3 separate regions of the Homo sapiens genome follow, and regions 1 and 2 are each linked to region 3. Evidence: fine-mapped expression QTL. A gene starts in region 3. Each other region holds a variant in brackets. All regions are shown on one strand. Distances are from middle to middle. Region 1 overlaps ELAPOR1 (endosome-lysosome associated apoptosis and autophagy regulator 1). Region 2 overlaps ELAPOR1 (endosome-lysosome associated apoptosis and autophagy regulator 1). Region 3 holds the start of ELAPOR1 (endosome-lysosome associated apoptosis and autophagy regulator 1).

What was found. PIP is the estimated chance that this variant, and not a neighbour inherited with it, causes the effect.
Region 1: its variant is fine-mapped to the expression of ELAPOR1 in whole blood (TOPMed, PIP above 0.99).
Region 2: its variant is fine-mapped to the expression of ELAPOR1 in whole blood (INTERVAL, PIP above 0.99).

The regions. Positions count from the first base shown.
Region 1 is chr1:109,183,571-109,191,226 of GRCh38, forward strand. It overlaps ELAPOR1 (endosome-lysosome associated apoptosis and autophagy regulator 1), which reads left to right. Exons shown (of 22, transcript NM_020775.5): 8 at 1,475-1,563; 9 at 4,607-4,784; 10 at 5,496-5,624; 11 at 6,022-6,112. Among named protein-coding and RNA genes, the nearest start is that of SARS1, 27 kb to the right of the region's middle. The variant T/C (reference allele first, on the strand shown) is at 4,319.
Region 2 is chr1:109,160,375-109,168,030 of GRCh38, forward strand. ELAPOR1 (endosome-lysosome associated apoptosis and autophagy regulator 1) reads left to right here. Exons shown (of 22, transcript NM_020775.5): 2 at 1,520-1,640; 3 at 4,125-4,317. Among named protein-coding and RNA genes, the nearest start is that of SARS1, 50 kb to the right of the region's middle. The variant A/G (reference allele first, on the strand shown) is at 3,884.
Region 3 is chr1:109,110,215-109,117,870 of GRCh38, forward strand. It overlaps ELAPOR1 (endosome-lysosome associated apoptosis and autophagy regulator 1), which reads left to right and starts at 3,901. Exons shown (of 22, transcript NM_020775.5): 1 at 3,901-4,122. The coding sequence starts at 3,970. It overlaps CFAP276 (cilia and flagella associated protein 276), which reads right to left and starts at 2,533. Exons shown (of 5, transcript NM_001245025.3): 1 at 2,385-2,533. The coding sequence starts at 2,465. RefSeq lists a silencer at 3,653-3,722.

The DNA of each region.
Region 1 (7,656 bases), 73 kb after region 3:
TCCTTCCTTCCTTCCTTCCTTCCTTCCTTCCTTCCTTCCATCCTTCCCTCCTTCCTTCCTTCCTTCCTAACAGAGTCTCTCTCCATTGCCCAGGCTAGAATGCAATGGCATGATCATGGCTCTCTGCAGCCTCAACCTCCTGGACTCAAGTGATTCTCCTGCCTCAACATCAAGTAGCTGGGACTATAGGCCTGCACCACCACGCCCGGCTAATTTTTGTATTTTTTGTAGAGACAGGGTTTGCTATGTTGCCCAGGCTGGTCTTGAACTCCTGGGCTCAAGAGATCCTAAAGTGCTGGGATTACAGGCATGAACCACCATGCCCAGCAGTTAACATTTTTCATTAGGTATAAATCAAGAGTTAAAGATAGTGTTGGGCTGGTGCGGGAGGCGGGAGGATCGCTTGAGCCCAGGAGTTCCAGGCTGCAGTGAGTTAAGATTGTACCACTGCAGTCCAGCCTCAGCAACAGAACAAGACTCTGTCTCTAAAAAATAACAATAATAAAATAATAATAAAGAGGCCGGGCACGGTGGCTCACCCCTGTAATTCCAGCGCTTTGGGAGGCCGAGGAGGGCAGATCACCTGAAGTCAGGAGTTCGAGACCAGCCTGACCAACATGGAGAAACTCCGTCTCTACTAAAAATACAAAATTAGCCAGGCATGGTGACTCATGCCTGTAATTCCAGCTACTCAAGAAGCTGAGGCAGGAGAATCACTTGAACCTGGGAGGCGGAGGTTGCAGTGAGCCAAGATCGTGCCACTGCACTCCAGCCTGGGCAACAAGAGTGAAACTCCATCTCAATAATAATAATAATAAAGATAGTGTTGGGATGCTTGGGTTGAGGCAAGTGGGAAGAACCTTATGTGTTAGGTGGAGTCCAAGGAAATTACAAACCTGGTTTGTGTAGAATGATTGCATGAAGAAAAGGAAATTTCCAAGGTGGAAGGCCTTCATTCTAGGCATATATTAGAACATTCATAGAAAGGCTTGGAATGAGTATGAAAGCAAAATCATGTTTTACTTCAACACTTCAGGAGTAGAAAAACCACACCCAGAGTCAAGACACTAAGGCACCTGGAAGATGGTGAACTCTCTGAACCTCCCCAGGTTTCAGGGAACTTAGGTTGGCAGTGGTTAACCTGCAAGAAGCTGTTTCCGTCTACCCTCCTTGCTGGTCCTTTGGCCAGGCCACTTCTCCCTCCCTTGCCCCATGGGGCGGGGGACGGGAAGCGGCAAACAGTGGTTTCTCATCAGCACCTGGAACAGGTGCAAAGGGAAGCTTGAGCAGGGTTGGGGAACTGGAAATGACACTATTGAGACAAGGGGAAGGGTGAGTGTGCAGGATTTTCTACTTCCGGCAATATTTGTGTGGCAATGCACCCAGGGACTTGGGAGTCACAGGGCCATGAAGAGGCCAGGAGCTCAGCTTTCTTATGTAACTCCAAATATTTCTTCTTGCTTTGGCAATTTAGAGAAAGGATCTTCTTCCTGTAACGTGCGCCCAGCTTGCACAGACAAAGATTATTTCTACACACACACGGCCTGCGATGCCAACGGAGAGGTGGGTAGTACAGTCTTGGAGCCCCTTAGCCCCAGATGGACTGTCTCCCACTCCCTGAGGTTTGCCACCATTTGGAACTTCAGCAGTCAATGACATTGGCACTAGTTAAAACCCCACAGACCTTTGAGGTGACCCTAGGGCTAGGTGGGGTGGGGGGCAAAACGAGACCTCTTCATTCATTTTCCGGTCAGAAACTGTTTTTGCAGCGTTTGTTTCACTGTTTATGCACATATGTTCTGTTTCAAAAACCCACTTCATTCTCTCTTGCTTGGTTTCTTCTATTTGCCGAGCCACTCCGGCAGAGCCTGCCTGTCCGTACACAATGTCCTCCCGGGGCTCTTCAGGCTCACCCCCTCGGCACTGTTTTGTGGGCTGGCACGGGGAATGGATTCCTGCCTATGGTCTGACTTGTTCCGTTTCTGCTGCTTCTCTTTCCTCCAGGCTTTCTGCTTCAGAAAAGAACTTTCCCTCCTAGTCTACACTGTCACTGAGTCAACAAGCATTTTTTGAGGCTGACTGATATGTCAGGCCTGGCACTATAGGCTGGGGAGTCAGAGACGACTGAAACAAGCTCCTGCCCCCAGGGAGCTCACAGTCCTGTATGAGAGGCTGGAGAGAGGAGAAAAACGGGCCCAGTCAAGGCAACCAGAGGGATGTGCAGGGAACTGGGGGAGCCCAGAAGAGAAGCGACCAGGACTTGGGGTGGGGGCAGCAGAGAAAGCCTCTCAGAGGAGGCCATTTGTTCAACAGTCAACAAATATTTATCGAGGAGCGACTCTGTGCCAGGCACGGTGCTAGGTGCTAGGCATGCATCACTTAACAAAACTGAGGGAACATCTAGCCCTTATGGAGCTTAACTCTTGTTGGGGAGGGAGTGGAGAGAGAGATAATAGACAACAAATGGGTATATAATATAGCAAATGGTAGTAAGTGGTAGGAAGGAAAAAAAAAAACCAGGATTAGGAGAGAGAGAATGAAGGAGGGTGGTGCCACTATTTTAGAAGGGTAGGGATGTCCTCTCAGGAGGTGACATTTGAGCAGAGACCTGAAGGAGATGAGGGAGGAGCCGTGGAGCTTTCCAGGCAGCAGACACAGCAGGAGAGGAGGCGGCAGCTGGGCCAGGTGGGTGGAGAAACAGTGTAAGTGAGCAGGGAAGGGCTTGAGGTGCACGGAGAAGGATCTGGCTGAGCTGTCTGTATCCCTAAGCTAGAGATTCTCAAGAGGATAGAACTAGGAGTTGGGCATTCTGCACTCAGCACTAAGCATGATGCTTGGCTCTTAGGGAGCATAAACATTTGCTGGCTGGGCGGCTGACTGAATTCTCCCTTTCCTAACTAAGCATGGGTTAAAGTCTGGTCCTTAACAATGAATATTTTGCACAGTCATCTCTTACCAACACCACCTCCCCCACGTATTTGGGGCATCATCCCCTTCTCCAGCAGCCAAGAGAGAATGGCTGTGTCTTGTCAGTTGCACCTTAGACTCAGTTCTGTGGTGTCTGGTATTCTGTATGACCTTGTGAACATTTATTTTCATTTTCTTGGTCTCAGCCAACTCACTAATAAAAGGCAGACAATTAATCCTGCTGCTCTTCTCCCTCCTGTTCATAACATGTGACTGAATGTGGCTGTCTTTCCTCCCTTCTGCCCCATTCTCTTCCCTCCCTGGGCTCACGCCAAGGCCTTCTGGGTCAGTACCGTGCTTGCTGCCTGAAAGCCCGGGTGTCTGCCTTGGCCTGACCACTGCCGGGGCCTTTAGATGCTGGGTCAGACCAAAGCCTGTGTTCCCGCCTTGCAGCACAGCCAAGGCCCAGCTCAGAGGAGGAGCACTGAAGCGTGTGCTTTCAGGAGTGCGCATGAACATGCATTCCCCAGCTGTTCCTTGCAGACTTCTGCTTTGTGCCTCATTCCCGCACTGGTTCTGCTCAGTCTGGTGATTGAGTTTGTCTTCTGAACAGTATTTTAAAATCAAGGGACACACCTCGAGCTGGCTCCTATGATTACATTTCTGACCTTGGCTGTGCCTCAGTTGTTTCTCAGGGACCAGGATGGCCCATCCATTGGGGTCAGTGAATGTGCTGCTCCAAGAGCTGGCCCGAGACAGTTTGCCAGCTCCTAGGACTCTCCTCTCCCTGAGACTCACAGGAGGCAGGTGAGGTTCAAGCCTGGGGCTCTGGCTGTCGCAGCCCTCCGCAGGGAAGAGGGCCGAGCTGAGCAGGGGAAGGAGGAGCCCAGGGCTCCCCATCAGTTAAGGCAGTCTGTGTCCCTCCTTAAGGACTTGTTTCTTATCTTGAAAAATATGGACAGAGGCCTTATTCATCCTTCTTTTCATATGTATGGTATCTGCACAGATCATGTTCATCAACCCCTCAGTTCAACCTATAAGGGCACGTTTTTGTCTGTGACTCGATCTGAGGGCCACATGGGAAGAATGGAGCTGCCCACCTTCACCCCTGACTCAGCCGGGGTCTCCTGCGGGTCATCTCCACTTCTGTACCCAATGCAGGGGCCATGTTTCATTCATCTCTGAGACACCAGGTCTGGCACATAGATGCATTAGGATTTACCCAATAAATAAAAGAGCAAAGAATGTACCACTCAAAAAATAAGTGGGGACATCTCAGCCACCCCCTCAGTCCCCGGGGGACATCTGAGCCACCTCCACCCTTGTGCCTTTCTGTGTTCTGGGATTTTCACCAGCTGCTTTTCCTGTGACCTTGGTAGCAATAAGATTCTACAGTGGAATCGGAGCTTTC[T/C]CTAAGACAACTGGTCCCACATTCTCTGTCATAAAGTCTTCATTAGAGCTATTCCTTGTCACCCAGGCAACATTCATTTGGCAGATAGTGATTGAACACAACCATGACTCAGGCACTGGGCTAGGTGCTTGGGATACATCCGTGAGCCACACAAAGTTCCCCACCCCAGAGGAGCTCTTACCTGGCCCAGAATCTGGATCTCTGCCCCCAGCCCCTATCCTCAAGGTAGAGTCCCAAAGATGTCCTAAATCTCACACAGGCTGAGTTGTGCTTAATCCATTTCTGCAGACACAACTCATGTACAAATGGGCCAAGCCGAAAATCTGTAGCGAGGACCTTGAGGGGGCAGTGAAGCTGCCTGCCTCTGGTGTGAAGACCCACTGCCCACCCTGCAACCCAGGCTTCTTCAAAACCAACAACAGCACCTGCCAGCCCTGCCCATATGGTTCCTACTCCAATGGCTCAGGTAACCTCCTCACCACCCCACTCTCTGCAGCACATCGACTGTGTGGGTGGGCTGTGTGGGCACTAACAGTGGCCAGCTGAATGCAGACTCTGCCCTTCCAAGGGAGGCAGTAAGGAATAAGGACCAGGCCACCTTTGAGGACTAAATTCAGGAGAAGAGAGGTCAGGGCTGGCCTCGTCTGCAGGTCAGAGTCATACTTGAGGCTGCCTTCCTTCCTCCTTGCTCCAACTGCAAATGTGACTCAGGACTGAAGGTGCCCAATCCTCAAAGCAGGGCTTCCAGCATATGGCAGAGATGCTGACTAGGCTTACAGGGCTGGGATGACCAACCCCACACAACCAAAACCTATAAGCCATGCTGCCTTGGGGGGATTTGAGTACCTGTTAAAATGAAAGCATTTAATGATAATATGACAATAATATGAACTATATGTATCAGACTAGAAGGTACATTTAAGTTTTGAAATGGAAATTGGGGTGGGCAAATAGGATGGTTGGCATATTGGAATGAAGGCTCAGTGTTTACATCTTGAGTTAAATACATTGTCAGAATGTTTTTGAGTCAACTTGATACAACTTCCTGCAGCAGTACTCAGCAGCCAGGCTTCTGGGCTGCCCGCTACTGTTGCAACTTGTCTGTGTGGCAGCAGCTCCAGTCAGAGTGACTGCAGCCTTCCCACTGAATGCATGGATCTTGTTTGTGGTTCCCCAGACTGTACCCGCTGCCCTGCAGGGACTGAACCTGCTGTGGGATTTGAATACAAATGGTGGAACACGCTGCCCACAAACATGGAAACGACCGTTCTCAGTGGGATCAACTTCGAGTACAAGGGCATGACAGGTAATTGCCTCTCCCTGTGCCATGAGCTGTCAGCTCCCTGCACACCCTCAGTTCTTCCAACTTCACATTTCTTCATAATAGTGATGTCTGAGAAAAATAAGCTAACCATGTCATGCATTCCCTTGAAAGTTCCACTCCTCATGGACATATGTTCTGCCAAGACAGCTTTAGAGGAAGGAACAGAGCTAGAAACATGAGCGTGCACTTCAAAGGTCTTGCTCTGAGAGCTTCAGGGTTTTTGACCAAAGTGGCAGGATAAGTAACACGGTTCATGTTCAGTGGTGGTTCTGGGCGCCTCAAAAGATGGTGTCAAACCTCCCTTCCAGAGTGTCATCTGGGTGCACATTTGCCTTGCACCCAAGAGCACAAGGCATTAACTCTCCTCTTTCCTTTTCAGGCTGGGAGGTGGCTGGTGATCACATTTACACAGCTGCTGGAGCCTCAGACAATGACTTCATGATTCTCACTCTGGTTGTGCCAGGATTTAGGTGAGGAATCCAAAGCCCAGGGGAGTCCAGGCCAGCTTGGCCATATCCGAATCCCACGTATTTTGGAATATTGTAGAGGAGAGGGCTTCCGGGGTTGTGTTTCATTTCATTTCAAATGTCAGTTGAGAACAGAGGGTACAGTTTGACCGAGGTAACCCAATGCTATCACGTTTTTCAAGTTGCTGCCCATGTTGATTTACCGACTGCTCTCTCTCCCGTATAGCTTCTCCCAGCCATTAGTCACGTGCTATTCAAATTCTTCCTCCTCACAGCATCACTTAAGATTAGAAAAAAAATAAAAATAAAAAATAATGGGGTCAGAAATGCCCATAGACAGTTCATCTTTATTTGGGGCAAGAAGATTGGGAAGGATTATTCTTACTGTATTTGTCCCCATATCCCAGGAAGACCTAGGGCAACACGAAATTTGTTTCCCACTAAACAAACAAACAAACACGCACACACACACACACACCTCCTGGCAGTGTGGTGTGGTGGAAGGAACACCAGACTGGAAGACAGGGCACTTGTGCTTTGCCGCTTACTGGCCGTGCGACCTTAGGAAAAGTCACTTCACCTGTTCAGGCTTCGGGCCCCTCATCCATAAAAACAGTGTGTGATTTAAGACTAACTGAGGTTCAGATGGCTTTTCCAGCCCGCTGGTTAACACAGCTGCATAGAGATAAGCTGAGAACTGGAGGTCCTCAGAATTCAGGCAAATGGCTAAAGCCAAAAGGAAAGCCGTGAATGAATTTCCAAGGCCAAAGTGAACTCTTCTGCCCATATGTGCTCTAAAGATAAGAAGCAGGCACTGAATATGCTTCCCTAGTGCCAGTCTGACACCTTCATTTCCTTCTTCGAGGTCCCTGCTTCCCATCCCTGGGATGTTGCTCAGTTTGCCTTCCCTTAACACACATTACTCAGAGCTAGCCAGATGAATGAAGCCTGTGTTTGCAAGGTGAGCAAACTTTTTAGGCTTTTTTTGGAATAACATTCAAAAAGTACTTTCCAATTTGCAAATCTGATCGTCATAGTAAAGTGTTGCCTCATCCCCCATCCCCACTACTACCCCAGCCCGCTTGGGCATGGCTCTCTCTTTCCCAAAAGTAGGACCAAACGGAGGACTTTGCTGGATCACAAATTCTGCTCCTTTAACCCCGGCAAAGCTCCCCAGTGCTGGAGAGACAGCTGCTGAGTAAATGTCAACAATTTACAGTCTTATGATAGACGTGCTTCTCAAACATAAATGTGCACACGAATCGCCTGGGAATCGTATTAACATGCAGATTCTGATTCACTGGGCCTGGGAGGAGCCTGAGGTTCTGCAGTTCTAATAAACTCTGGGAGATGGCCATGTTGCTGGTCTGTGGACCATATTCTGCTAGTGAGGTGATACAGCATTTTATAAAGGACCGCCACATCTGTCATGCCTTCAGGTCTCCCCGCGATGATGGGGGGTAGGTAAGAAAGAGATTTCATCACCTCCATTTTACAGATAAGGAAACCGTGGTTTGGCTAGGTCAAGGTCACATAGCTAGGAGGGC
Region 2 (7,656 bases), 50 kb after region 3:
AAGACACCATTTTTTTAATGTGTCATCAAGAAAGAAAAAGCTCTCTATCCCTTAAAACATAACACAATTCTTCCTTACTGTGTCAATTTTAAGACACGTCTTGATTTCATAGATGTTAGATGTGGAAAAAGCGTGCATCTTGGAATAGATGAAATGCAGTGTGTTTACCTATCCCCAAAAATAAAGCTTATTCCTTTTGATCCTGACGCATTATTAGATTAGCAAACTTCAAAACTTGTATTTTTTGTCTTAGCTCCTTGACGTTATACATGTTATGCAATCAGGCTATCACGTGGGTTAAAGGGGGACATTAATTCTATTTTTCTTATGCATACAGTAATACAAAATACCTCTGGGCTTGAATATAGTTTTAGGTAAGTGTAGATTGTAAAATACTTGTCAGAGCCAAAATCATCACTAATTCCATGGTCTGTTGTTTATTACCAGATTTAAAGGAGGAAGAAACGCTTAAGGGCATTTGGCACATCAATTGTGTTTTCTTTGTTCTGAGTGGAACTGTTTGTTGTTGTTGTTTTACTTAATGCTTGATTTGGTTGTTTTGTTGTTATTCCATTTATTTTTAGCTCAGGTAAAACAATTAAACTATGAGTTTCCCATTGCACAGACAAATTAGGGATGAACAGGCTCAAGTGAGAGCACATCACCTGCCTCGGCCAAATATATTTTCATAAAATGCAATTGGGAATTCATAGTCTTTCTGAGTGGAAAGGAGCATAAGAAACACAGGGAAATAGGGCCAGGCGTGGTGGCTCATGCCTGTAATCCCAGCATTTTGGGAGGCCAAGGCAGGTGGATCACAAAGTCAGGAGTTTGAGACCAGCATGGCTAACATGGTGAAACCCCGTCTCTACTAAAAATACAAAAATTAGCCTGGCGTGGTGGCACTCGCCTGTAGTCCCAGCTACTCGGGAGGCTGAGGCAGGAGAATCGCTTGAACCCAGGAGGCGGAGGTTACGGTGAGCCAAGATCATCCCACTGCACTCCAGCCTGGGCGACAGAGCGAGACTCCGTCTCAAAAAAAAAAAAAAAAAAAAAAAAGAAACACAGGGAAATAGAAATACATACCACTTCTGTGAGGAGCCTTTGTAAATTTTTTGTGGACTAAGGCTTCCATTTAGAACATCCTTCCATTTAGAATGTCCTCGTTCATAAATTCTACACTTTGGAATAAGAAAAATTCCACCTATTTCTAGCCTGTTCCTTAGTTACCTTTCCCACGTTCCTCTGCTCCATAAGGACACTACTTAAACATAACAACAAAGAGAGTCACACACAAAAATGATTTCTAGGGACTAGACCATGGCTGGGTGGAAGGGAATGATCCAAATCATTGTAGTTCTTGTACTCGGTTCATAATCATCAGCTCCCTGCCCGGGGTCCCAGGGCCCATTTCTGAGAGGATGAGCATCAGTAGCCATGGTGCTGGGAAGTGGGTGGGAAGCTGTTAATGTTTGATCACTGCTAATGCACATTTCGCCCACTGTTCTCTCCCCTGCAGTCTGAGTACCACTATGAGTACACGGCGTGTGACAGCACGGGTTCCAGGTGGAGGGTCGCCGTGCCGCATACCCCGGGCCTGTGCACCAGCCTGCCTGACCCCATCAAGGGCACCGAGTGCTGTAAGCAGCTATCCTGCTCAGGGCCTCCCTGTCACTCAGCTTTGGTCTCTCCCCCAAGTCTCCTGCCATCCAATCTGGGCCCTTCCTGGCAGAGCAGCTGCATTAAGGAATCAGATCTTTTCCCCAATTAGTCCCCACATCCCAGACCCTTATGAGATTTGGTGCAGAAGTATTTCATGAATGCAAACTGGATATCTGAATTTGCTTTCATTTTTTAAAGGAATTTAAATCCCATCAGTGGATACAGCATAAGCAATGCCAGCTGTGTGCACTCAGATATTCTTTTCTGTTTGCATACATTTTCATTTTTGCCTTGTATGTCTCTCCAATCTACACTCACTCACCAGCCACAATCAGTCATTAGGCAAGATTGAGATTTGCTTTCATTCTTAAAAAGGAAGTCAGAGAGGCTAAGTTTCTGCAGAGACGTCCTTTAAAATGCTCCAGGCATCACTTCAGGAGACAAGAATCTTCTTGACTGTGGGTCTGATTGTGCAATAGGAAAGGCAGTGGCTTGCCGCAGCCCCAGCACCCGCCTCTGTGACTCTGCAGTCACAACTTTTCTACAATTGGCAGCTGTTTCCCCTGCATTATTCTTTTAGGAATGCAAAGGGAATAACAAGAAAAACCAGGCACTAGATTTAAGGAATTATCTGAAGAGTTGGAAAGGAGTTTGAAGATATTTAAATTCTAAAATCAGCTTAGTACAGTGCCTGGTTGAGTAAGTGAGCAAATAAATACTTGTTAAATTAATGACTGGATATTGCTGAGACCTGAGCAGAACTGAGGTGTGACTAGTGGAAACAAATGAGCCATCTTCATTGAACTCTGCTGACTTCAGTGAGTCCCACTATGTGTTAGCACCATGATGTGCACATGCAGTGTGAACTGCAAAGACAAATAAGGCACACTCTCTGCTTTCAGAAGCTTAGGGTGGTGGAAAGTGCAGACATTCATTCATTCACTCATTGTTTCAGAAACATTCATGAAGCTCCCAGTCTGTGCCAGTCACTGAGCCAGCCATCCCCAGAGGAGCGCAGAGCCTAGTGGGTGGCAGACATATATGATATGAGAAAGAATGAGAGTTACGAATATTTAGGGATCAGGCATAGCTGGGAGGGCCACTTGAGCAAAAGTTTAGACGTGGATGAAGAGTGACACATTTGAGGAAGAGCTTGTGGTCCAGGGTAGAGGCAACACAGAGAAGGTGATGGATGGAGTTGAGGTGAAAAAAGATTTGTAGTGGGAGGTCAAGCTGGGAAGTTAGGCTGCAGGGAAATCGTGGAAAACTTTGAATGCCAGGCCAAGAGCATAATTCTAGAACCAAAAGGGAGTGCCTGTTTATTTTTAAAATAAGGAGAATAATAGTACATACGTGTTTTACTTTTTATTTTTTTAAAGACAAGGTCTCACTCTGTTTCCTAGGCTGAAGTACAGAGGTGCAATCATAGCTCTGTAGCCTCGACCTCCTGGGCTCAAGTAATTTTCCCACCTCAGCCTTTTGAGTAGCTAGGATTACAGGCACACGCGACCACTCCCAGCTAATTTAAACATTTTTTTTTTTGGTAGTGACAGGGTCTCACTGTGTTGCCCAGGTTGGCCTCAAACTCCTGGGCTCAAGTGATCCTCCTGCCTTGGTCTCTCAAAGTGTTGGGTTTACAGGTATGAGCCACTGTGCCTGATCACATCTGTTTTAGAAAGGTACCTCTGACCACAGAATGAGCAAAAATAAGAATAGGGAACTAGTTAGGAGGATATTGCAATGATTGAGTTAACAGGTCATGAGAATTCCACCTAGCATGGTGGCAGTACAACCAGAAAGGCAGAGGCCAGAGGCTCAAGGGAGAAATTCAAGGCTGAAGGGCCATGTGTCATTCAGAGGGGTCAGCACAAGAGACCTTGGCATCTTCTTCACCAGAGAGCTCTCAGAATGGTCAGGGCACCTCTCCAAAGGAAACGAGTGCCAGGAACAAGCCCAAAGTCCCACAGCAAGGCAGAGCATCCGTGGCCCTAGATCTATTTTTTTTATAACAGCTTTATTGGTATATAATTTATATGCCATGAAATTCATTCCTTTAAGGATAAAATTCAGTGGTTTTTAGAATATTCACAGCAACCATCATCACTCTCATTTCACATTTTAATCATCCTAAAAAGAAACCTCATATTATTAGCAATCTCTCCCCAGGCCCCTCCCCACAGCCCCTGGCAACCACAAATCTACTTTCTGTCTCTATGGCTTC[A/G]CCTCTTTTGGCCGTTCCATACAAATAGAATGACACATAGCAAGGAATATCACTGCTGAAAAAAAAATTTTTTTAAGAAAAATAAAATCAAATCACACAGTAAATGCCATGGCCCTAAATCTTAGTGGGCCAAACTCCTAGACCCCAACCCAGCGCTCCTCCCTTCAGCTGCTCGCAGCCCATTCACTTCTGGGGCTGCAGTGACCTCACTGCCCCACCTTGTCTCTGCCCTGTTTTCCAGCCTTCTCCTGCAACGCCGGGGAGTTTCTGGATATGAAGGACCAGTCATGTAAGCCATGCGCTGAGGGCCGCTACTCCCTCGGCACAGGCATTCGGTTTGATGAGTGGGATGAGCTGCCCCATGGCTTTGCCAGCCTCTCAGCCAACATGGAGCTGGATGACAGTGCTGCTGAGTCCACCGGGAACTGTACTTCGTGAGTCTGCACACACCCCCACCCCACCCCCAGCCCACTGGGTAAGGGGCTACAGGGCACACTGGACAGCCTCCTCCGCTGCCCCTCAGGCTGGGCAGGGAGGATGGAGGGAAGAGGAAGCCAGGCTGCCAGGGTGAGGCCTGCAGCTGTGCCCGCAAGACCAGTGGATGTGACTCTGCCTGGCCCACTCTTACTGGCCTAAACTTACCAGTGATGGACAGGCATTTGTGGGAGGTAAAAAACATGAGGAAATAAGAGAGTGGACAAGGGGGGCAAGGGTTAAATGGCCCAGTCTATTTAAAACAAAACCCAATTGGAGCTGGGCACAGTGACTCACCCCTGTAATCCCAGCACTTTGAGAGGCTAATGTGGGAGGATTGCCTGAGGCCAAGAGTTTGAGACCAGCCTGGGAAACATAGCGAGACCCCTGTCTCTACAAAAAGTTAAAAAATTTGCCAGGTGTGGTGGTGCATGTCCGTAGTCCCAGCTACTCGAGAGGCTGAGGCAAGAGGATAACTTGAGCCTAGGAGTTCAAGGTTAGACTGAGCTATGACCGCACCACTGTACCCCTGGATAACAGAGCAAGACCCTGTCTCATTGAAAAACAAAAACCGGCAGGGCGCGGTGGCTCACGCCTGTAATCCCAGCACTCTGGGAGGCCGAGGCGGGTGGATCACTTGAGGTCAGGAGTTCAAGACCAACCTGGCCATGGTGAAACCCCGTCTCTACTAAAAATACAAAAAATTAGCCAGGCCTGGTGGTGCATACCTGTGATCTCAGCGACTCGGGAGGCTGAGGCAGGAGAATCGCTTGAACTGGGAAGCGGAAGTTGCAGTGAGCTGAGATCGCACCATTGCACTCCAGCCTGGGCAACAAGAGTGAAACTCCGTCTTAAAAAAAAAAAAAAAAGAAAAACAAAAACAAAAACCAAAAAAACCAACCGGATTTCCACCACGGAATTTCAGATCAGCCAATATACTTTCTCAGCTTGACTGGAACACAATATGCAAAGCTTGGGTATCTTCCCGGCTTGGGTGCTAACTTCTTCTTCTTCTTCTTTTTTTTTTTTTTGAGACAGAGTCTCACTCTGTCGCCCAGGCTGGAGTGCAGTGGTGCCATCTTGGCTCGCCACAAGCCCCAGCTCCCAGGTTCAAGTGTTTCTCCTCCCTCAGCCTCCTGAGTAGCTGGGTTACAGGTGTGTGTGCCACAATGCCCGGCTAATTTTTTTTTTTTCTTTTTTTTGAGATGGAGTCTCGCTCTGTCACCCAGGCTGGAATGCAGTGGTGCCCTCTCCGCTCACTGCAAGCTCTGCCTCCCGGGTTGACGCCATTCTCCTGCCTCAGCCTCCCGAGTAGCTGGGACTGCAGGCACCCGCCACCACGCCCAGCTAATTTTTTGTATTTTTAGTAGAGATGGGGTTTCACCGTGTTAGCCAGGATGGTCTCGATCTCCTGACCTCGTGATCCACCTGCCTCGGCCTCCCAAAGTGCTGGGATTACAGCGTGAGCCACCGCACCCAGCTAATTTTTTTGTATTTTTTTAGTAGAGATGGGGTTTCACCATGTTGGCCAGGCTGGTCTCAAACTCCTGACCTCAGGTGATCCACCTGCCTCAGCCTCCCAAAGTGCTGGGATTACAGGCATGGGCCACCTTGGCTGCTAACTTCTGAAACTGATTCTGCCTAGCCTTTGCCCAGTGCTGGCTGAAATCTTCCAAATGCTGTGAGACCCCAATGACTAGCAAATTTTCTTGGAAAGCTCAGTCCAGGGTGCTTGGAGAACTGGATATCTATTTCAGATATGTCTTTTGTAGGCCAGGCACTATTCTGGATGCTTTACATATATTATTTTCTCTAATTCTCACAAGAACCTTGTGAAATAGGCATTACTATTTCTATTACAGAGACGAGGAACTGGAAGCTCAGCAAGGTTATGACCTGCTCTTTGTTATCCGGTTTACAGCCGGCGAGATTGAAATTCGAACCCAAGCTTCCACTGCTCCATAATGCCACATTCAAATAACATTTATTATGGGCAAGGCAACACTGGGTCCTAGGGAGCGAAAGTGGGGGGATATGAGGATGTGAAAGGCAGCCATATTGTTCCTTATTAAATATGGACAGTGAATACAGGAGGAAAGCAAGTGAAAGTTTCACTTATACCCAAACAATCAAATGGATAAGAAGGACTCAAGAATTGTATTACACTTGGATTTCTAAAAACCGGGAGCAATGTTTCCCATTCCTATACTTAAATCTTGTCTAAGCCAAGCAGTGGCTATTTAATCTGTAGTCCAATTTTAATGTTATGTTATTTTAGAGTTCAACTTGGTGTGTCAGATTCATTAGCATGACAATACTGGAGGCAGAGATAAAGCTAGAGAGCTTTAAAGCTGGAAGGAGCGGGAATGTGTGGGTTAAGACAACCAACTCCCATTTGAGTCCTAACTGAGAATGTCATTAGGCCCTGGACAAGGTGCAGACATGGCTCAGTCAATTCCTACCCATGTAAAGGAAGGATTTCTTCTCTCTCTGGGGACTGCACCGAGAGTCCAGAAATCATTATCTCTCAGAGAGGCAGGATGTGGGTGGGTTAATAACAACTTGTGTTTCCACCGCACGGACTATTTCAGGGCCTGCATCTTAAGGCATCCCACGACATCCCGGGGAGGGAGGGAGAGGATATTTCTCTGTCAATGGAGAGGAAATGGCCATCTGGAGAGCTTTTGTGGTTTCCCCATCATCCCTCAGAAAGGCAATAATTGAGCTAATACCTAGAGCGCAAGTATTTGGCTTTCCTATTCAGCTGTGCAGCTACCCAAATCCTGCCTGCTCTGCCTCAAGAGACTCCAAGCTCATCTCCTGCTTCCATTCCCAGCCTCCTCCAGGCCTGTCCACTCAGCAGCCAGATTCATCTTTCTTTTTTCTTTTTTTTAAGAAACAAGGTCTCACTCTGTCACCCAGGCTGGAGTGCAATGGCGCAATCACAGCTCACTGCAGCCTCAACCTCCCCGGGCTGAAGCCATCTTCCCACCTCAACCTCCCGCGTAGCTGGGACTGCAGGCTCATGCCACCACACCTGGCTAACTTCTTATTTTTCTAGAGACACGGTTTCACTTATGTTGCCCAGGTTGGACTCAAACTCCTGGGCTCAAATGATCCTTCCGCCTCAACCTCCCAAAGTACTGGGATTACGGATGTGAGCCACTGCACCCAGCCTCATCTCCTTAAATCCAGTCACAGTACTTTCCCGCTCAAAACCCTAGATTCAATGGCTACCAATTGCTCTTGGGATAAAGTCCACTACCTTCCCACAGCCTGCAGGGCCCTGCTGCCCTGCC
Region 3 (7,656 bases):
CAGCCTCACTTCATTTCTTTGTCGTGGTCTAGCTACCAGCCTGTCACCTTCCCTACAGAACCAGACCTTTTCAGGAGTCAATATTTACTATCTCTACTTCCTCACTCACCATTCCCATACCCTCTTTAGCTCACTGCAGTCTGGCCTCTGCCTCAAGCACCCCCTAAAACTGCTCTTGCTAGTTATCAATGATCTCTGTGGCCAGGTCAGGTGGATCCTTTCCAGGCCTGATCTTATTTGAACTCAGCTGTTTCTGGCACCATAATGCTGATTCCCTCAAATGCCCTCACCAAGCTCTGTGGGCCCAGCTCCTCTGGGTTTTCCTCTTATTTCTGGCCCTTATCTCTCAGCTACTGTCTCAGCTCCACTTTCTCTCTGTCCCTTAGGCAGTGCTATTCTCCAAGGGTCTCATTTTTACTTTTCTTATGCTCACATCCACTGGATGAGCTGATTCCCTTCCATGGCTTCAACTACCATATGGGTACCATAGCTCATACGGATACACAGCTCAGTCATACATCTTCAATCCAGAACTCTCAATCCTGTTGCCTACTATTGACCTTCACTTAAATATACCACAGTCACTACAAAAACATCTACATAGTTGATGTTTCTCAACATCTTTCTCCCCAAACCTGCTTCCCCAGGATGCCCCATTTCAGTGAAACCTCAGAATTAAACCGTTAGGAACCCAGCAGCTATCCTAGACTCACCTCCTCTCTTGGGCCCATGTCCAGTCAGTCTCCAAGTCCTGTCAGTCCTGCCCTGTGCACCTTTCTCACATCTGCACCTGATCACCACCCCCTGTGGCACTGCTGTAGATCTGTTACTCTTCCTCCTGGAGATCACCTCACCTGCCTCCTAGCTGATCCCTCTTGTCTCACTCTCATCCTATCCAGTCTGCTGCCACTTGTGCTTCCTAAAACACCCATCTGATTGTGTCACTGTGGTACTTAAAATCCTGCTATGGGGCTGGGACCCATGGCTCATGCCTGTAATCTCAGCACTTTGGGAGGCCAAAGCAGGAGGATCACTTGAGGCTAGGAGTTTGAGACCAGCCTGGGCAACAAAGGAAGATCCTGGTTCTACAAAAAAATAAAATAAGAATTAGCCGGGTGTGGTGGCATCACCTGTAGTCCCAGCTACTTGGGAGGCTGAGGTGGGAGAATTGCTTGAGCCCAGGAGTTCGAGGCTGCAGTAAGCCAAGATTGCACCAGTGCACTCCAGCTGGGGTGACAGAGCAAGGAGACCCTGTCTCAAAAAAAAAAAAATATCCCACAATGATTCCTCACATCCCTAGGATGAAACCATAGCTAGCTAGCATGGTGTACACAGCACACCCAGCCAACCAAGGGCATCTCTCCAGCTCTGATTTCTGAGTGCTTCCATTGCACGCCTACACTCCAGCCCTTCTAGACTATTTGCAGTTCCCCAAATAAGCCATTCTCTCTCTCCTTTCCATGTATTTGCACCTGCTGCTTCCTTTGCCTTGCATATCTGGTTCCTGTTTCCTTCTTCCTAACTCACATTCTATCCACTCCCTCACCTGGCCTACCTAACTCATATTTGGACATCAAAATGCATCTGCTCTGTGAAGCTTTCCTTTAAGTTCCTGGTTCTCACGGCACCCTGCACACAACTCTGTCACAACATGTGCTATTGTGCAAGCATTTTTGCTATTGTCGGTCTCTCTTTACTACTAGAGTTCCTTGACAGCAGAAGCTACATCTAATTTATTTATATATCCTTGGCGTTTAGCAGAGTGTCTGGCTTATAGTAAATAAGTATTGAATAAATAAAAAGGGGCTCTCAATATTGTTATTAGACCACAATCACCACTTAATTCATCTTATTGTGCACCACTTCATATATCCCAATCACTTCTACCAGAAAAAAGATCATCTAAGTTCCGAAATCAGTGTCCACCATCATGCTAAACACACACATAACAAACATATTGTGGTGTTAACCAGAAGACAGAGACAGTGTGAACACAGATGTGTAAAGCATGACCTCTGGTGGCTTTCAGAGGATTCTCTCCCACTCCATATCTCATTTCTCTTCAGAGAACAGTCTTCCAAATAGGGAAATGGGTAGCTTGAAGGAACCTGGGCACTGCCATAACTTATACTCACAATTGATTTGAGCTGCCAGAGCCCCTTGTTCCTCTAGACTAGAACTCTACTTTCCTCTGCTCAAAAACGCCTCTGAAACGTTAGCCGACTTGAATATGGAGATAGGGAGGCAGGCAGAAAACAGACTTCCCTGGTACCCGACTGAGTGTCTTCACCAGAGTCCTTTATGTTACCATCTCTGCTCATCACACAGACAGAAAGAAGACTACCGGCGACCCTACTGGGAATCTGCGCAAGAAACCACAGTACCTTGGAAGCCCGCAGTTCTCCTAAGTAGGAATCATCGTTATCTAATGTAGGCTGCTGGAAAGGGTCCCGGGTGGGAGGCATGGCTAAATGCCTAACTCTTTTAAGAGGGATGGGAGGCCCGCTCAGCCGCAGCACAGCCTCACTGGCATAAGATCCCGGGTCCCAATTGTTTGGAGCGCTGGTTTCGGTTGCCAGGCAACTGCCCAGCCATCTATGACAGAGGAATTCCCTCAGAGGAGGGCGCCACCTGGCGGCTGACCACGGGAGGCCCCTGGGGAGGAAGCTCCGGGGACTGCAGAGGGAACGTTCCGCTGAGCGGGCCCGAGACTTGGAATTGCACTCCTGAGCCTCGGCGGAAAAGTGCTGGCTGCTCACCATCAGGACTTCTGCAAAAGACTTCAGTTGAGGAAAGAAGTCCTGAAAGATGACCCAGAAATTTCCTTCTCCCTCGCACCTAACAAAAGGCTTTCAAAGCCATGAGAGAATGAGGATGTCAAGAGACCAAAGAGGGCCGGGCGCGGTGGTTCACGCCTGTAATCTCAGCACTTTGGGAAGCGGAGGCGGGCGGATCGCTTAAGCCCAAGAGTTCGAGACCAGTCTGGGCAACATGGCGAAACCCCGTCTCTACAAAAAGTAGGAAAAAAATTAGCTGGGCTTGGTGGCACGCGCCCGTAGTCCCAGCTACTCGGGAGGCTAATCCAGGAGAATCTCTTGAACCCGGAAGGCGGAGGTTGCAGTTAGCCGAGATCGCGCCACTGCACTCCAGTGTGGGCGAGAGAGTGAGACCCTGTCTCAGAGAGAGAGAGAGAGAGAGAGAAAGAGAGAGAGAGAGAGAGAGAGAGAGAGAGAGAGAGAGAGAGAGAGAGAGAGGCCCACGTGCGGCGCTTGGGAAATTGCGGCTAAGGCAAACTCCTCGCTTAAACTCGGATCAACTACAGTGTCAGGGCTTCTCTTCTAGCCGGTTGTAAAAGCACGGATGGATTTGGCGGGATGTAAGATCTCCAGGAGTGGCCTTCGTAGGAGGGAACACGTACTGGGGCCTCTTCCAGGCGACGACGTCTGGAGGGTGATCTCTCCATCTTCTTTCTCTCGGTTCACACGCCACGTGTGCAACATCGGAGATGCTCATAAAATAACCCCTGGCCCGAAAGGGCAGTAGAAAACGGAAATTTGTTGGCTGGCTTGGAGGATGCTTCCACTGTGTTCTTCACACGAGCCCCGGGCCTGCCTGTTGGGCCGGTTGCGCACCCCGGGCGCGCGCTCTCCCGCGCCCACGCCGCGCGCACCAGCGGCGGCGGCTGCCATGGCGACCCGCAGGTGAGCTGCAGAGGCGCGCGTGGTCCCTGCCCCACCCGCGCGGAGCCAGAGAGGAGGCGGTTGTCAAGGCGACGTGGGTAGGAGGAGAGGACAGAGGGAGGAGGAAGGATGGGCGGTGTTGGCGTAGCCGCAGGGAGGTGACTGAAGCGAGCCTGGCCTCTTGCATCCTCCGCCTGTGTACCTCCCTCCCCTTTTTTTCCGCCTTCTGCCAGCAGAAGCAGCAGCCGCAGCACCTGAGCCGCTACTGCCGCTCACTCAGGACAACGCTATGGCTGAGCCTGGGCACAGCCACCATCTCTCCGCCAGAGTCAGGGGAAGAACTGAGAGGCGCATACCCCGGCTGTGGCGGCTGCTGCTCTGGGCTGGGACCGCCTTCCAGGTGACCCAGGGAACGGGACCGGAGCTTCATGCCTGCAAAGAGGTACTGCCGCCCCCCTACCCGATCCCGCTTTGGTCACAAAAGTCTTGGATCCAGGCGGAGACCTTGGGGACCCAGGCGCAGAGAGTTTCAGACGCCACGGAGTTTAGATTTCTTTGGGGATGAGGCGTGGGGGGAGGGAAGAGGAGCCAGTCTGGCGTCATGAGGAGGCCAGCACATTGGAGGACTCACGGATAGATCATCCTCACAGATTGGGATGCTGAGCTCAGCGAGAAAGGTCCCAGCCCCAAGAAGGGGAGCTACCTGGGTACCTGAACTCAGAATGAGGGAGGCAGACGAGTTATTTTCCAGTTAGGATGAACTCACCTTAAAAGTGGTTGACAAGAAAAGATTATGCACAGAGAAGCAAAATAGGAAGAGGAAAGAAGAGTAGTGGGAGAGGAAAGGAGTTAGGAAGGCCAGAAAAAAGTATCAGAGCGAAGTGGTTTTATCATGGCTACACAAAACGGAGTGTGAAGGTGGGAGATGTGCGAGAGGGATGATAGGATTCCAGCTCTCTAGTTCCTTGTTTATTAAACATCGGTTAGTGCAGACTGTAAAATGTGTCTCCTCCTTATAGCTTGGCCTCCCCGCAGCGTACTATGTTTAGTGTACCTGACAGTACACGACTCACCTTTTTGCAGATTTTGAGTTCTTCAATATCTTGTGTTCTGCCAACCTCTAGTCTCCTTCTCTGACTTAACATATGTCAAAGTCTTTTTCAAGGTATTTCCAATATGTTGGAAGCAGAATTCAGACAATAGGTAGTCAATCTCTTATAACCAAAAATAGCTTTTGAAAAGTCATCTTGGAGGAACATAAAAGGGCACTAGCAGCAACAAAACTAAGTCATTTCTATGTTATTGAAATAACAATATTTGGTTGTGCTCTGAGCAACTTTTTTAGAAACCATATGGCAGAGGCAACAATAAGATATTTACAAGAACTACGTTGGGGAAGGCAAAATAAAAGTTCTGTTATTTCTGTGAAATGTGAAGGACTTCATAAAAAGTCAAGCATCTAGCTCTGTAAATTTAATCCCAAATATCAAGCTTGACTAAGGTTTTGAGAGGTTAGAATATATATATAGATGTATTTTCTTTACTTTAAAAAATATATGTTTTAAAATAGAAATGAGGTTTCGATATACTGCCCCGGCCAGTCTCTAACTCCTGGGCTCAAGCGACTTCCCACCTCGGCCTCCCAAAGTGCTGGGATTATAAGAATGAGCCACTGCGCCCAGCCCAGAATATTTTTTATAAATTGTTAGTGTGAACTGATTGGCAACAACTCCATCCCATATGGAGATAAATTCTTATAAAGATGTTCTGTGTCTACAGCACAGCAGGTCATAAAGAAGTCAGGTGTGGGGGGGAGGATTTTTGTGTGAATAAAGATACTTGATTTTGAAGATTCATGAATATGACATAAGTGACCCCAGTGAGTGGGACTTTTGATAACCTTTATTAGCTCCAATGACAACCTGCCCTGGGCCATCTACATTTCCACCTAGCCGCATTATGACCTGTTTTAGAGATCGCAGGGAACAGTATGATCTTATCAGTGACTGGCTCACTGGCCTTGATGGCCTGTGGTCTAACCAACCAAAATAATGAGACCAAGAAAGCCCACTTGCCTAAGAATCAAACAAGGGAGTTTCCTGAGTGGAAGGTAAGAATCATACAGTTTAACTACCAATTCTTGTTGAGATCTTTGTCAACAATGGAAAATATGAGACATTTCAGAAATTAAGCACTTCTATTATCTTGGTTTGGAGGAAGGGAAGAATATTGATACTTGAGAACTCGAACTTGTGTACGAATTTTGCCTTTGGTCCTGTTTGAATAACCAATATTTGCCTAAGCAAAAGGTCTTGCCACAAAGTGTAAGCTTAAGGTAGTGGAAAGCTATGGAGCTCAACCTACCAGGGTTTCAGTCCTGTTACTTACCACGTGGTTTTTGGATTTGTAGAATGGGTATCAAAATAACACCTACCTCAGAAAGGATTGCTTTGAGTATTGAAATAGAAAATACATTGGAAACACAAAAGAGAGTTACCCACCCTCCTTCTCTGTTCAGCTTCTTTCCCATTAGATCCACACCCCATGCCAGATTGGAAATGGCTTAGGAGGCATGCCCATTTGCCACAGGCGTCAGCAAGTCCTGTTTACATTCTCCTTGAGCAAACAGTGGCCATTGAACACCCTCAACTCCAAAACAATCAGGGAGAGAATAAACCCATTATTATAGTATTCATTTGGCAATATGAACTGATCAAACAAGTTTGGGGGCTTCCAACCCCAAATGGTGAAAAACCAATTCAAGGTAGACCAGCTCTTCTCTGTTCTTTTTTTTTTTTTTTTTTTTTGGTGAGACAGAGTCTGGCTTTGTTGCCAGGCCAGGCTGGAGTGCAGTGGCATGATCTCGGCTCACTGCAGCTTCCACCTCCCAGGCTCAAGCAATTCTCCTGCCTCAGCCTCCCAAGTAGCTGGGATTACAGGCATGTGCAACCACACCCGGCTAATTTTTGTATTTTTAGTAGAGATGGGGTTTCATCATGTTGGCCAGGGTGGTCTTGAACTCCTGACCTCAGGTGATCCACCCGCCTTGGCCTCCCAGAGTGCTGGGACTGCAGGCGTGAGTCACTGTGCCCAGCCACTCTTCTCTGTTCTTAATCTTCATACGAATTTCTTGTGAGCTGATGTTGGGTGTTGATGGCAGGACTCTTATCAGGCCAAGGCTGACCCTAATGACAATAATATTGTTCCAGCCTTGTTCGTGAAAGCTGAGGCATCCCTCTGGATGTAATCAGGAAACGGAGAGGTTTAGCTTGAGGCCTAAACTGAAGTGGCAAAGTGGGAGTTCTAGACTGCTGGACATGTGCTGGGGCTTGGCATTCCTCTCACAGTTTTATAATAATCAGGGTCACAAATGGAACTAAACATCCTGTATGATATTCGTTTTCATGAATCGTTTCTTTAGCCAAGGCTAAGTGCTGACTGCGAGCCAAAGGAGCATTTCCCAAGGTGCAGTGAAGCAAATCAAACCAAAGAGGAGCAGAAAGCTGCCTTTAACACGCTCTACCTTATCCTGAGGCTCCAGGGCTAATTGGCCTCAAAGGGGTTCCCCAGTCTATATTGAAAAGCCCATGGGTTAGGAATCTAGCAGACATGGATTGGAATAAAATTTGTTGAATGAGTGATGCCATTTAGTAAGGATGCTACTTTGAGAAGTTAATTAACTTCTGTCAGCATCAAATTCCTGATCTGTGAAATGGGGATGGTAATACCTATCTCACAGGGCTGTTGTAGGAATTAAATTAAATAAAATAACATGTGAAGTGCCTAGTACATACCCTTGATATATCATAGGTACTTAATAAACGTTGGTAGGAAGAACAGTTAAGTACACAGATAATGACGTATAAATGACGTCATAAGATTAACATGTGGTAAACAATGCAGGAGTGGCAATATAGAGGATGATAGGAAAAGAAAGAAGAAAACTAATTCAGGGCGGGGCACAGTGGCTCACACC